2 separate regions of the Homo sapiens genome follow, and region 1 is linked to region 2. A link means that fine-mapping ties the variant in region 2 to the expression of a gene that starts in the linked region. Tissue or cell type: whole blood. Region 2 holds a variant in brackets; the other region holds the start of a gene. All regions are shown on one strand. Distances are between the middles of the regions.

Evidence for each region. PIP is the estimated chance that this variant, and not a neighbour inherited with it, causes the effect.
Region 1: it holds the start of TUFM, and the variant in region 2 is fine-mapped to the expression of TUFM in whole blood (INTERVAL, PIP 0.97).

Annotation. Positions count from the first base shown.
Region 1 is chr16:28,844,024-28,849,908 of GRCh38, reverse strand. TUFM (Tu translation elongation factor, mitochondrial) reads left to right here and starts at 3,561. Exons shown (of 10, transcript NM_003321.5): 1 at 3,561-3,691; 2 at 3,803-3,997; 3 at 4,429-4,595; 4 at 4,854-4,958; 5 at 5,047-5,211; 6 at 5,358-5,490; 7 at 5,575-5,679; 8 at 5,808-5,885. The coding sequence starts at 3,640. It also overlaps a transcript of SH2B1 not described here. RefSeq lists an enhancer at 3,210-3,699.
Region 2 is chr16:28,872,870-28,879,930 of GRCh38, reverse strand. It overlaps SH2B1 (SH2B adaptor protein 1), which reads right to left. Exons shown (of 8, transcript NM_001387430.1): 8 at 5,726-6,484. The coding sequence ends at 6,111. ATP2A1 (ATPase sarcoplasmic/endoplasmic reticulum Ca2+ transporting 1) reads right to left here and starts at 1,443. Exons shown (of 23, transcript NM_004320.6): 1 at 1,142-1,443; 2 at 815-832; 3 at 348-430. The coding sequence starts at 1,259. It overlaps ATP2A1-AS1 (ATP2A1 antisense RNA 1), which reads left to right and starts at 10. Exons shown (of 2, transcript NR_046290.1): 1 at 10-389; 2 at 827-974. RefSeq lists silencers at 1-143, 164-213 and enhancers at 284-1,057, 2,303-2,392, 2,403-2,472, 4,977-5,477, 5,478-5,978. The variant G/A (reference allele first, on the strand shown) is at 2,843.

The sequences.
Region 1 (5,885 bases), 29 kb after region 2:
CTCTGTCACCCAGGCTGGAGTACAATGGCGTGATATCGGCTCACTGCAACCTCCGCCTCCTGGGTTCAAGCGATTCTCCTGCTTCAGCCTCCTGAGTAGCTGAGACTACAGGCGTGCACCATGCCCAGGTAATTTTGTATTTTTAGTAAAGACGGGATTTCACCATGTTGGCCAGGCTGGTCTCGAACTCCTGGCCTCAAGTGATCCGCCTGCCTCGACCTCCCAAAGTGCTGGGATTATAGGTGTGAGCCATTGTGCCCAGTGCATCCATAATATTATCTACCAAACAATATTCTTTTAAGTTGATCTGTTTTTTTAAAAACTTGATTATTATGCCAGTTTTTTTTCAAGCTAATACACATTAAAATAAATATAGCACCACAAAAATATAAACCATTAATTCAAATACCACCCCCAAAAACTCATAACTTGCTAGTGGCCAATAGTGTCTTAGGATAAATTCCTAGGAGTACAGTGACTTAGGTACAGAGTAGAAACAGAAAACCCTTTTAGGCTGGGCACAGTGGCTCATGCCTGTAATCCCAGCATTTTGAGAGGCCAAGGTGGGCAGACGGCTTGGGCCCCGGTATTGGGAGACCAGCCTGGCCAACATGGCGAAACCCCATCTCTACAAAAAATACAAAAATTAGCCAGGTGTGGTGGTGTATGCTTGTAATCCCAGCTATTTGGGAGGCTGAGGTAGATTGAGCTTGGGAGGCTGAAGCTGCAGTGAGCTGTGACTGCCCTACTATGCTCCAGCCTAGGAGACCCAGCAAGGCTCTGTCAAAAAAACAAAAACAAAATCTGTTTATACTACACATGATACCAGCCTTTCCTAAGCAGAACTGATTAACTGGAGGGCCAGGAAGAGAGAAGTCTTAGCAAGTTCCTCACTTTATCTGAGCAGTAAAATGAGAGTTAAATTATAGTACAGTCTGGCTGGGCATGGTGGCTCACACCTATAATCCCAGCATTTTGGGAGGCCAAGGTGGGTGGATCACTTGAGGTCAGGAGTTCAAGACCAGCCTGGCCAATATGGTGAAACCCCGTCTCTATTAAAAATACAAAAATTAGCTGGGCGTGGTGGCAGGCGCCTGTAATCCCAGCTACTCGGGAGGCTGAGGCAGGAGAATCGCTTGAACCTGGGAGATGGAGGTTGCAGTGAGCCGAGATCGTGTCACTGCACTCCAGCTGGGCAACAGAGTGTGACTCTGTCTCAAAAAAAAAAAAAAAAAAAAAAGGACAGTGCGGTGTGCACACTTTTTGGGGTTTAGTGGTGGTGGATTCCTTAATCACCCTGACCGTCAGTTTTCACACCTGCAAAATGGAGGAAATAATAGTTCCTACTACCCAGGGTAGCACTGGGAGCGCTGATTGTGAAACAATAGGAATGCCTGAACATCATAAAGCTCTAGTTCAGAGTTTCCTAAACTCCTCTGAGTTTTCATTTGAAAAAAAATTTTTTTTTTTGGAGACGGAGTCTCGCTGTGTCGCCCAGGGTGGAGTGCAGTGGCACCATCTCAGCTCACTGCAAGCTCCGCCTCCCGGGTGCAAACAATTATCCTGCCTCAGCCTCCTGAGTAGCTGGTACTACAGGTGCACACTGCCACGCCCAGCTAATTTTTTGTATTTTAGTAGAGACAGAGTTTCACCGTGTTGCCCAGGCTGTTCTCGAACTCCTGAACTCAAGCAATCCACCCGCCCGGCCTCCCAAAGTGCTAGGATTACAGGTGTGAGCCACCACGCCTGGCCAAAATATTTTTATAGAGATGGGGTCTTTCTTGGCTGAGCGTGGTAGCTCACGCCTGTAGTCCCAGCACTTTGGGAGGCCACAATGGGCGGATCACTTGAGGTCTGGAGTTCGAGAGCCGTCTGGCCAACGAGGTGAAACCCCATCTGTACTAAAAATACTAAAATTAGCCAGGCGTGGTGGCACATGCCTGTAGTCCCAGCTACTCAGGAGGCTGAGGTGGGAGAATTGCTTCAACCCAGGAGGTGGAGGTTGCAGTGAGCCGAGATCGCCCCATTGCACTCCAGCCTGGGCGACAGAGTGAGACTCTGTCTCCAAAAAAAAAAAAAAAAAAAAAAAAAAGATGGGGTCTTTCTCTGTCACTCACGGTGGGGTGCAGTGTCATGATCATACCTCACCACAGCCTTGAACTCCTGAGCTCAGGCGATCCTCCTGCCTCGGCCTCCTGAGTAGGAGGGGCTATAGCTGCATGCTACTGTGCCTGGCTAATTTTAAATTTTTTTTTGTAGAGATAGGGTCTCCTAATCTGCCCAGGCTGGTCTTGAACTCCTGGCTTCAAACCGTCCTCCCACCTCAGCCTCCCAAACTGCTGGGACTATAGGCTGGCACTATAGCCACCGTGCCCAGCCTCTTCTCAGTTTTAGAAGAGTGTTTGTTATATAGCTTCCCAGTCTGTGCATAGACCCCACGGAATCATAACCTCCAGGGGAGGAATTAGGGAATCTATTTGAAACAAACACTGTCCACTGAGTCTCAGGATCTGATGAGTTCCGAAACATTAGCCAGGGTTAAGCAGCCATAATTAACACTTTGGAGTGCCCTGTGGAAGCTGCCATGAGATGATGGATGTGAAAGTTAAGGGACATTGACTACCCTTGCACCCATTCATTCAACATTCACTGCATGCTCCACCCTGTTAGGTGCTGGGGACACCGACAGATTAAAGGAGACTCAGGCTCCCCTTAAAGGCTCCCCTAGCTGGCTCCTCATCCTTGGCTCCTCATCTGCAAAATTAGATGGGTGGGGCGATGCCCAACGGAACTGCTCCTTAGGCTGCTGAGGGACTACAGGGGTGGGCAGCGAAGCTGTCTGTCTTGTGGGCTCTGGCCCTGTGAGGTCTAGCAGTACAGGGTCCCCGCAAGCTGCCTGACCTCACAGGGCCCAACACTGACTCCTACCCAGTTCATCTCCTCTCAGGGCTAGATGTCAGGCTCTCCCTATGAAGTGGATACTACTATTCCCATTTTACAGATTAGAAAACAAAGTCTCAGCGAAGAGGGAGGTCACACTTCACCCCATCCCCGAAAGGCGTCCAGGACCTGGTCCCCTACCTCCAGCTGCGGCAGAGGCGGCCAGATATCTCGCAAGACCCGCGTAGCGAGTCGGACTCCGGGGGACTCGGGGTCTCTCTCTGCCGGGCCCAGGAGGAGGTTCCTGAGCAGTCGGAGCCGCAGCTGCCTCCCGGAGCCCGAGCCCCTCCCTCCGGGTCCGGCCTAGCCCGCCTGACTCCCACTCTGATCACCTCCACAGCCCGCCGACCTGAGAACTACTACGCCCATGAGCCTTCGCGGCGCCGGTGATTTAGGGGACGCTCCTCAGTGCCCCCTGCGACCGCCAGAGAGAACTACGTTGCCCCTCAGCCCGAGAGGCGCGAGTGGTGGAAAACCTCTCCATCATACTCCGCCCTCGAGACACCAGCCCCCTCCATGACGTCTTCAGCCGCGCGCCCGACGTCGGCTGAGACGGCCATAGACACTGGCGGCTAGAGGGGCCCGGACTTGCCCTCCCAGCTCTAACTTCCGCCGGAAGTGCCTTCCAGCCGCAGGCGCCCTTCTTCTTCTGTGCGCTCGGGCTCCTGGTCCCGGCTCCCCGGTTACCGGGGCGCGAGTATGACCACAATGGCGGCCGCCACCCTGCTGCGCGCGACGCCCCACTTCAGCGGTGAGTGGTCAGGGAGGGCGATGGCGGCCCAGGAACACTTTGGGGGAGTGGTAGGTGGCTGGGTTCGGTCTGACCCCTTCCCTGCCTGACTCCAAGCTTCGGTCCCGGCAGGTCTCGCCGCCGGCCGGACCTTCCTGCTGCAGGGTCTGTTGCGGCTGCTGAAAGCCCCGGCATTGCCTCTCTTGTGCCGCGGCCTGGCCGTGGAGGCCAAGAAGACTTACGTGCGCGACAAGCCACATGTGAATGTGGGTACCATCGGCCATGTGGACCACGGGAAGACCACGCTGACTGCAGCCATCACGAAGAGTGAGTGGGGTTGGGGCGTCCAGCAGCGCCCTATCTACTGATGGGACCTGGAGCCAGGGAGGCAAGGCCAGCAGAGTGTCTGCTGGAGGAGTTTACTGTGGCCCCAAGAGCCCGAATTTGTGCGACAGGTGGATTGGGAGATGCAAGAGACAAATTTCTCCTGAACAGGAAGAACTTTGTGATCCACCAATGGCTTGGGGATCACAAAGTCGTGGGGAATGCTCTGCAAGCAGAGGCTGTACCCTAAAGAAGTCACAGGGCAGACCCTTAAGGCCCTCTAACATTTCTTTCTGACCCACAGTTCTCTCTGCTGGAAGAGTTAGAGATTGGAGGAGGTTATGTATTTAGGTGGGAGGGTTCAGGGGCGTGGTCTAAGCTCTGCCTCTAGCACTGGAACTTTAGCTGAGAGGTGTGTTCTTTTCCTCCTTTAGTTCTAGCTGAGGGAGGTGGGGCTAAGTTCAAGAAGTACGAGGAGATTGACAATGCCCCGGAGGAGCGAGCTCGGGGTATCACCATCAATGCGGCTCATGTGGAGTATAGCACTGCCGCCCGCCACTACGCCCACACAGACTGCCCGGGTCATGCAGATTATGTTAAGGTGAGGGTTGCTGGGACACTGGAGACAGGGCCAGAAGCTGCCTCTTGTCAGGATAAATGTTAGGCTTGTGGGGAGGAGATTAAGATATTCAGTGTTTGGGTATGAGATGGCAGGTTTGTGGTCTTGGCCACGCAGAATGGGTGGTGAGGAGATGGTAGAGAAAGGTGGGCCTGAGTTTCTAACTGCTACACTTGGCTATATGGATGTGAACTGAAGAGCTCGTTGAACTTGGCTGTTTCCTTTCCTTCTCCTCTCCAGAATATGATCACAGGCACTGCACCCCTCGACGGCTGCATCCTGGTGGTAGCAGCCAATGACGGCCCCATGCCCCAGACCCGAGAGCACTTATTACTGGCCAGACAGGTACTCAGAGCCTGGGTAAGGATGCAAAAGGGAAGAGTGGGGAGTTGGGCCCCTCTGTATATTGTCCCTGTCTCTCTGGCATCTACAGATTGGGGTGGAGCATGTGGTGGTGTATGTGAACAAGGCTGACGCTGTCCAGGACTCTGAGATGGTGGAACTGGTGGAACTGGAGATCCGGGAGCTGCTCACCGAGTTTGGCTATAAAGGGGAGGAGACCCCAGTCATCGTAGGCTCTGCTCTCTGTGCCCTTGAGGTGAACGCGGGGTCAGGCAGGGCAGCTGCTGCAGAGGGTGGGGCTGGATGGGCACCCAGAGCTCTGCTTTGTGTCTGGGAAGTGGCTCTTGATAATCGAGGGAAGTAGAATGGGGATTTCAGAGTCCTGGCACTTCCCCTCAACAGGGTCGGGACCCTGAGTTAGGCCTGAAGTCTGTGCAGAAGCTACTGGATGCTGTGGACACTTACATCCCAGTGCCCGCCCGGGACCTGGAGAAGCCTTTCCTGCTGCCTGTGGAGGCGGTGTACTCCGTCCCTGGTGAGGACTCTGTCTGTTCCCACGCACTCTCTCTAGCAGAAGCCTAGCTCGGGGTCCCTGATATCCTGTCTTATTCCCTCCCAGGCCGTGGCACCGTGGTGACAGGTACACTAGAGCGTGGCATTTTAAAGAAGGGAGACGAGTGTGAGCTCCTAGGACATAGCAAGAACATCCGCACTGTGGTGACAGGTTTGGGAAGCCAGTCTGGAGAGCAGGGCCTGGCTGAAGGGTGGCCTTACCCCGGCAGATCCCTTGTGCCTTCCCTCTGTCTCACATTCGCCTTCCTTCTCCCTGCTCCTTTTCCCTTTCCGTCCTAGGCATTGAGATGTTCCACAAGAGCCTGGAGAGGGCCGAGGCCGGAGATAACCTCGGGGCCCTGGTCCGAGGCTTGAAGC
Region 2 (7,061 bases):
GGAGTGGCAGTGGCCCCCCGCGCCGCAGCCGGCATCGCGGCGGGACCCGGAGCCCGGAGTTCGGGTGGGTAACCCGAGCTCTCCAAGCTCTTGAAGCCGCGAGGGTGGCTTAGCTTCGGTGTTTTGGCTGAGAACACCCTTAAAGCTTAAAATAAAACCTGCCTCTGGGGTGCAGGGGAGGAGAGAGGAGGACGCGAATCACACCCGCTGCTGCGCGCCAGCCCGCCCCGTCTGTACAATGGGATGCTCGGGACTCGGACGGGAGGATCCAGTGACTGCGAGCCCCGCATTCGCCCGATCCCAGCCTCACACCCCCAGCCAGCCCCCAGAGACCCTCCCACACTTACGAAGGAAATGCATGCGGCCAGGAGGAGAATCCGCACCAGGAGGTCTTCAAACTGCTCTATCACCAGCTCCCACAGGGTCTTCCCTGGGGGAGGAGGCAAGGGGAGGGCCCCGGGTTAAGGTCTAGTGGGTGAAGGTCTGGGATGGAGCGCCCTGGACTCCGGCCTGCAGTGGGGAGGCTCTAGGGTGGTGGGCAGACAGCTTGGTGCCCAGAGAAGGGCTAAGAAGCTCGCCTGGAGTCCAGAAACAGACTCGGCAAAGTGGGGGGCAGTTCAAGGGTTGGCTGCTTCAAGGAGAAAGCGCCTGGGAGACTTCTGCCCCGGACAGGACTCTAACCTTTAGGGAGGGAGATTTGCCTTTTGGGAAGGGATATTTGCTCAAAGAATCTAAAGAGGCAGGGAGGAGGGAGTGGGACAGGGCGGGGTGGGGGGTGGTCATTTATGAGAGTTCAGGGATTCCAGTAACTTACCTTCCTCAGCAGGGAGCTCTACCCAGGAAAAAGAAGAAAAGGACAGATTCATTTGGGGTTCAGCCTCATGCCCCCCACACCCAAGACTTTGTGGCTAAGAGAATCAGGCCACCTTGAGGTTCATCAAGTTCATCCCATTAAAACCTCCCAAAACTCTGGATCTCGGGACTCTGTTTTCTCAGTATCTTCTTCCCCCTGCGAGCATTGGACAACGGCCCAGCTCTTCCTTAAGAAACCCTGAAGGGAGAAACGCGTGCATGCGTGTGCGTGTGTTTTGGGGGTGCAGGAGGGCATTAATTACCAGCCGCTCTTCCAAGGGACACTTACCATTGAGGCCGTATTTCTCCAGATTCCGCTTAACTTGGTCCGGGGTGAGGCCCGTGGTCTCACTCACCCCAAAATAGGCCAAACATTCCTCCGTGGTTTTAGCATGAGCGGCCTCCATTGTGCTCCCTTCCTGGGGGCCGGGGCCGGTGTGTTCCTTCCAGGGGGTTCCCACTCGTGGGGGGTCTTCCTCAGTGTGTCCAACTGCCTGTCTGCCTGGGTTTCTTCTTTTTACTCTCCTGCCCCCTCCAGGTTTTTCTTCCCTCCACAAAGCTCTGACCCCCGTCCCACTTGAGCAGCCGGCCACCCCCCGGCCCCCAGCTGGTCCTTATGAGGGAGCAGGGGGAGGCCGGGCTCCCCCCTCCACCAGATCAGGGATTGGCTGGCTGAGACTCCAGCAGGAGGTGGTCAGAAAAGAGAGATATTTCTGCTGACAGAGGGGGAACAGTGGGGCTGCAGCCTGAGATGTCACTCATGAGGGACGCAAAGGTAGCCCCAGCCCCAGGGAAGTGGGGTAGGGAGAGACTTCACTTTCTGTCATCTGCTACTGACCCTGCCCCCCCATTGCCTCGACTTCCCCAGCTGCATTGAATTTCCCATTCCAAACTCATCCCCCCAGTTCTTCCCGGAGCCCTCTTCCATCCCCGGCCTCACCTGTCCCTTTCCTCACACCCCCCTTCCTGCCTCATCTGCCCGGAGCCTGTTTCCATTGCCGCAGTCTCCTTCCTCCTCACCCCATTTGCTGAAGCAGTGGCAGAGATACCCCAAGCCTTTGGGGGACTGATGAAGGGAGAACATCTTTTGGGGGCTAGAGGAAGTGAGTGGCTCCTAGAGGGACAAGGGGAAGTGAGGGGAGAGAGTCAAGGGGACAGGGCCGAAGATGGTAACCCTACCCTAGGGAGGGGTTGCCACAGCCATCAACAAGGGATTTAGTGTCCAGGCCCTGGTGAGCAAAGCCAGCACTGCCTGTCTCTCCCCAAAACTGCCCCCCCCCTTCCCCATCGCTCTAACTCAGCCTCTGGGAACAGAGCCCTGAGGGCCCCCCCATCCTGGATAGGGAATCCCCACCCCACCCCCAAGAAAATGGGACACCAAGGCAGCCAAGTAACCCAAGAGGCTACAGAATGTGCTGATGGCAGAGGGGGAGGGGTAACTGTCTCAGGATGGGGGCAGGGGTCACCCCAAGTCGTGCACTGAGGGTCACCTCATCCCACACTGTGCTCTAACCAACGGGGTTTCTGTGGCCAGCCCCAGAGGCCTGTGGTCTGCGCTGCACTCTGCCCTGCTGCATCTGTCCACGAGGGGAACAGGATCAGGCCCATGCTGTGTGCGTGCAGGAGCTAGGCAGACCCCACAGAAAGGTGTCGGGGCCTGGGGAAGCTGGACCAAGCAGGGGCTCCAGACCAAAGGAATGGGGAAGGGTGGACTTCTGGGGACAGGTCTGGGGGAAATAAGGACAGATGTCTAGACCTAGGGGGAAAGGGAGCAGAGACACAGAGCCACCAGGGTCAGAGGGAAGTCCGAGCAGCAGTGGGGAAGAGGGACAGCAGGGAGCCAGGTGGGCGGGGACCCCGGCGCTGGGTGCAAAGCCACAAGTTGTTGCTGAATGCTGGCCTTGGTGTCAGCTTCCTCAGAGAAGCAGCTGCTCTGAGCTGCCCCTCCCCACCCCTGCTCCAGGATGGGGGCGTCTCTTGGTTACCACCA[G/A]GGCAGCTGCTGGAGGAGCCGAGGGAGGGTACCAGGGGTGCAGGAAGGGGAGGACAGGCAGGCAGAAAGGCTGGATGAGAGTCAGGGTGAAAGGTCAGTGAGGGGAAGGGGCCTGGTGCCCTGGGCTCAAGTCCGTCCTCTGTCTAGGCCTGTTTCCTGAAATGAGCAGAGGCATGTGGACTTCCTAAGTGTGGCTTCTTAAGGCTGCTTTCCATTCTGGGGCTCAAACTCCGAAGCAGAGGACAGAATAGGAGACAGCAGAGCAAAGAAAAGGGAGGCCCCCACTTTTGGGGAGGGGGATGGCAGCAGGGGTGGATGGAACTTGAGGGTTCAGCCTCCCAGATGCATCCCTTCTGCCTGGACTTGGGTGAGGCGCGGCCTCCTGGGTGAGTTGAGGACAAGGTGCTCCTTCCTGCCTCCTTTTCACAGTTCCAACAAACCCCTCCCCTGAAGCAGAATCCTGCTGTGACCTGAGGGGAGTGGGGGACAGTGGGCTGAATTGGGGGTGCAGGAGAGCATTAGCAGCCTCTCTTCCAAGAGACACAGCCCCCGGCACCTCCACCCGGCCCAGCACCCACCGTCTCCGCTGGACTCAGGCTCACACCCGCCAAGGCTTTTGGCGCTGGCCGGCGTCTCCCCACCGGCACCTGGAGGAGTGACAGGGGCTACTGTCTTACAGCAGTGGGAATGCCCAAACATGGAGAGGGGCAGACGGAGAGATGGGCAGCTTCGAGGGAGTCGAGAGCCTGAGACAGAGGGCAGGGGGCAGGCTTGGCAGCACATTCCTGCCAACAGGCCTTTAAGGTTATTCATTTCTACCTCCCCCGGCTTCCCAGAGGGGGAAACAAGCCAGGGAGGGAAAGCCACCCGCCAGGAGCTGCAGAAGGGCTGCTCTAGGGAAGGCTGTGGGTGTGAACTGCCATGGAGGGAGGCTGAGCCAGAGGCGCCCTCGGGGATCCCTTCCCACAGGGGTCTCCACGCCCAGGGATGGAAAGTGATCCTCCTGTCACACCTGAGGGCTGGAGCTAAAAGCATGGGACACAGAGACACCCTGGCCAGTCCCTGATGAGTGCAGAACTTCGGTTTAACCATCTGTAAAGAAAGGCTTAGAGGGAAAGTCTCTCAGGCCCCAACAGCCAAGACATGCTGGTCTGAGGAGTGGGTGGGTGTCCTCGTCCCCCTCCCCTGCCCATCTTTGGAAGGCAGGTCCCTGAAGGCTGGCAGGGCTGGGGGAGGGGGAGCCTCAGAGCACCAGTTGCTGCTGGAAGATTAGGAGGGGATCAGGCCCTGCTTACCTCGGGGCACCACAGCCTTCACTGGCCATCTCACTAAGAACCCAGCACCCGGCTCTCCAAAGCTTCCCCCACTTTCAAGGCCGGTCCTATCCCCAGTCTCCTGAGGCCAAGGTTTGGGGAGCCCCAGAAATTAGAGCAAGCAGGAGAGCCAGCAGGCTTCCCTCGGCTAGCCCCCCGCCTGGGTGGCCTGGAAGCCCAGCTGTCTCCTGTCCATCTCCCTACAGGACACAAGGCCCAGAATAGCAAGGTCATGAGCGTGGGTAGGGCCTCCTGGAGGTGGGGGCTGAAGCTGAGGGGCATGAGGGTGTGGGCTCCTTGCTGCCTGGGCGGGGAGTGAGGCAGGATGCTGAAAGGCGGAGCTGGACAGTGGGGAAGGGAGAAGGCCGAGCTCAGCGGGTGGGATTCTTCAGCCCCAGGCCCCTCCTTGTTGGCACCCACTACCCCCAGAGCTGGGAAGCCCAGGGGTGCCCTCTGTTGGAGGGCACAGCCACAGATCAGGAAGACTGATTCCAAGAGCAGAGCCTGTGTTTTACGGGGTGGAGGGGTGTGCCACAATGGGGGTGGTGTTATAAACTCAAATGCCCACAGGGCCAGGCCCTCCCAGGGAGCAAAGTGAGCTGGTGGGGATGGGGCAGATGTGGAAGTGGACCCACATCACTGGATCTTCTGATTTTTAAGAGAAGCCAGTGATTTTTTTTTTTTTTTTTTTTTTTTTAGACAGAGTCTCGCTCTGTTGCCCAGGTTGGAGTGCAATGGTGCGATCTTGGCTCACAGCAACCTCCACCTCCTGGGCTCAAGCAATTCTCCTACCTTAGCCTCCTGAGTAGCTGGTATTACAGGCGCGCACCACCACACCCGGCTAATTTTTTGTATTTTTAGTAGAGACGGGGTTTCTCCACATTGGTCAGCCTGGTCTCAAACTCCTGACCTCAGGTGATCCACCCACGTCGGCCTCCCAAAGTGCTGGGATTACAGGCGTGAGCCACCACACCTGGCCTGTGATCTGAATTTTTAATGTGAAACTCAAATGGACACCATGTCCAGGCCAAGCAAACCATGTCAGCAGCTCTGACTCAAGATGAAACTTCACATGTCACAGATGAGGATGCTCAGGCCCGGCGTGGCTACACCTTGCCCAGGCCAGTGAGTGGCAAGGCCAGGACAGAAGCTAGTGCCCTCTGCCATCCCTCCAGCCTGGCTTTGAGAAGGGGGCCATTGGGCCCCTCTGCGGCTACCCTGTGACTGCCACGTTCAATCTCTTCCAGCACAGCCACCGTGCCTCCCATCTCTCACTGCCAGCTCTCTCTAGGGTACAAAGCCATAACTCAGGAAGGGCCGCTGGAGATCACCATGCCTGCCATTCACAGCACTGTCCCATGACAAAAACTCGCAGGAGACCCCAAGAGCATCATTTAGTGCTCCACGAACAAGGCTGTCAGACACAGGGATGGCTCCGAAAGCACAGCACTGCAGAATGATGGGGACTGGCCTGGGCCAGCCCTCTGGCCTGTGGGCACTGAGTGGGCTGCCTTCCCAACCCAACTGTCCCCAGTCCCCACAGCAAACAATGGCCATAGCCATCACGATAGAACCGAGATAAACCTTTTTATTTATTTATGCTTCTCCATTTTGTTTAAAACAACAACAACAACCACCTTAATGTAACTGACAGCCCTTCCCCCTCACCCTGCCTCGGGCTGGGGGTAGTTAATGGGGAAATGGCCCCCAGGGTGGGGCTGACCAGAAGAGCCCCTCAAGGAGCTCATGGAGCCCAAATCCCCTGCCCTGGGGAGGGGACCTGTAGTGTGTGACGGGAGCCTCTCCCGAGCCTCTGCTTGTACCATCAAAGATGCCCTTGGCCAACAAGGGTCAGGAAGCATGGGGGAGGGATTTCGGCCTCCTCTGTCCCTACCCAGCCCAATCTCACGAGCAGGGCTGGGGGGTTTAAAAAGGGTGGAGCGGGTGGGGTTGGCTCACACGAAGGAGTACTGGTTGTTAATGGCCCTGGGGTGGCCCCCTTCCTCTCCATCACCCCCTAGTGGTGACTGCTGCAGCTGCACCATTGGGGGCACCCCCGCGTCCCCACCAGACCCAGCGCCCTGGGCCTCTGAGCCTGGGGCTATGGCCTCTTCCAATTCAACCACGGGGACCAGCTCAACCACGGGGACCAGCTCTTCCGGGACCCCTCCACCGCCCGCTTTCTCTTTCTCTTGCCTCTCTTTGGCTGCTGCGGCTGCTGCTGCCGCCACTTCTGGCGCCCTCGACGCCTCTTCTGCCCCAGGCTGTGGGGGATCTGTCCATGAAGGGGGTTCAGGGGGCTGGGGTGGGTCATGGGAGGTGGTCGGTTCTGGATAGGAATGGTAAGAAAACAGACTGATTGTGGAGGCAGGTGAGCTCCTGCCGTGGCCTCCCCTTCACTCAGCCCCCCAGGAGCGTGGCTGTCTCCCCACATCCCATCTCCTGAGCAACCCCCCATCCATGGAAGATGGATCATGGGCGGTGGTGAGAGGAGGACCACACTTACACACAGTCACTCGCTCCGAAGGGCATGAGGGTGCAGGAGGCATCGGGGTGGCATCCATCTCCCTCGCACACCCCCGCATGGCTCCCAGCCTGCTCCCGGCCTGGGGGGAGGGGCAACGTGGGGACAGATGGGACGGTGGGGCAGGGGAAAGGGAGAGATCAGACAGGGACATGAGACATTGAGGGAGGAGGGAAGGGGATCAGACCGAGTGTCCCCGGGAAGGGCAGGCCCAAGGCCAGGCTGCGACGGAGGGCAAAGACGAGGCCAGGATGGGTCCAGGAGACAGACAGACAATGGAACAGAGGATCCGATGGAATGGGGATGCGCCCGCCCACCTCTCAGCTGCCGCCCCGGCTCCGGCCAGGAGCCTTCTGCCTTCCTGTGTCCTATCAGCGCATTT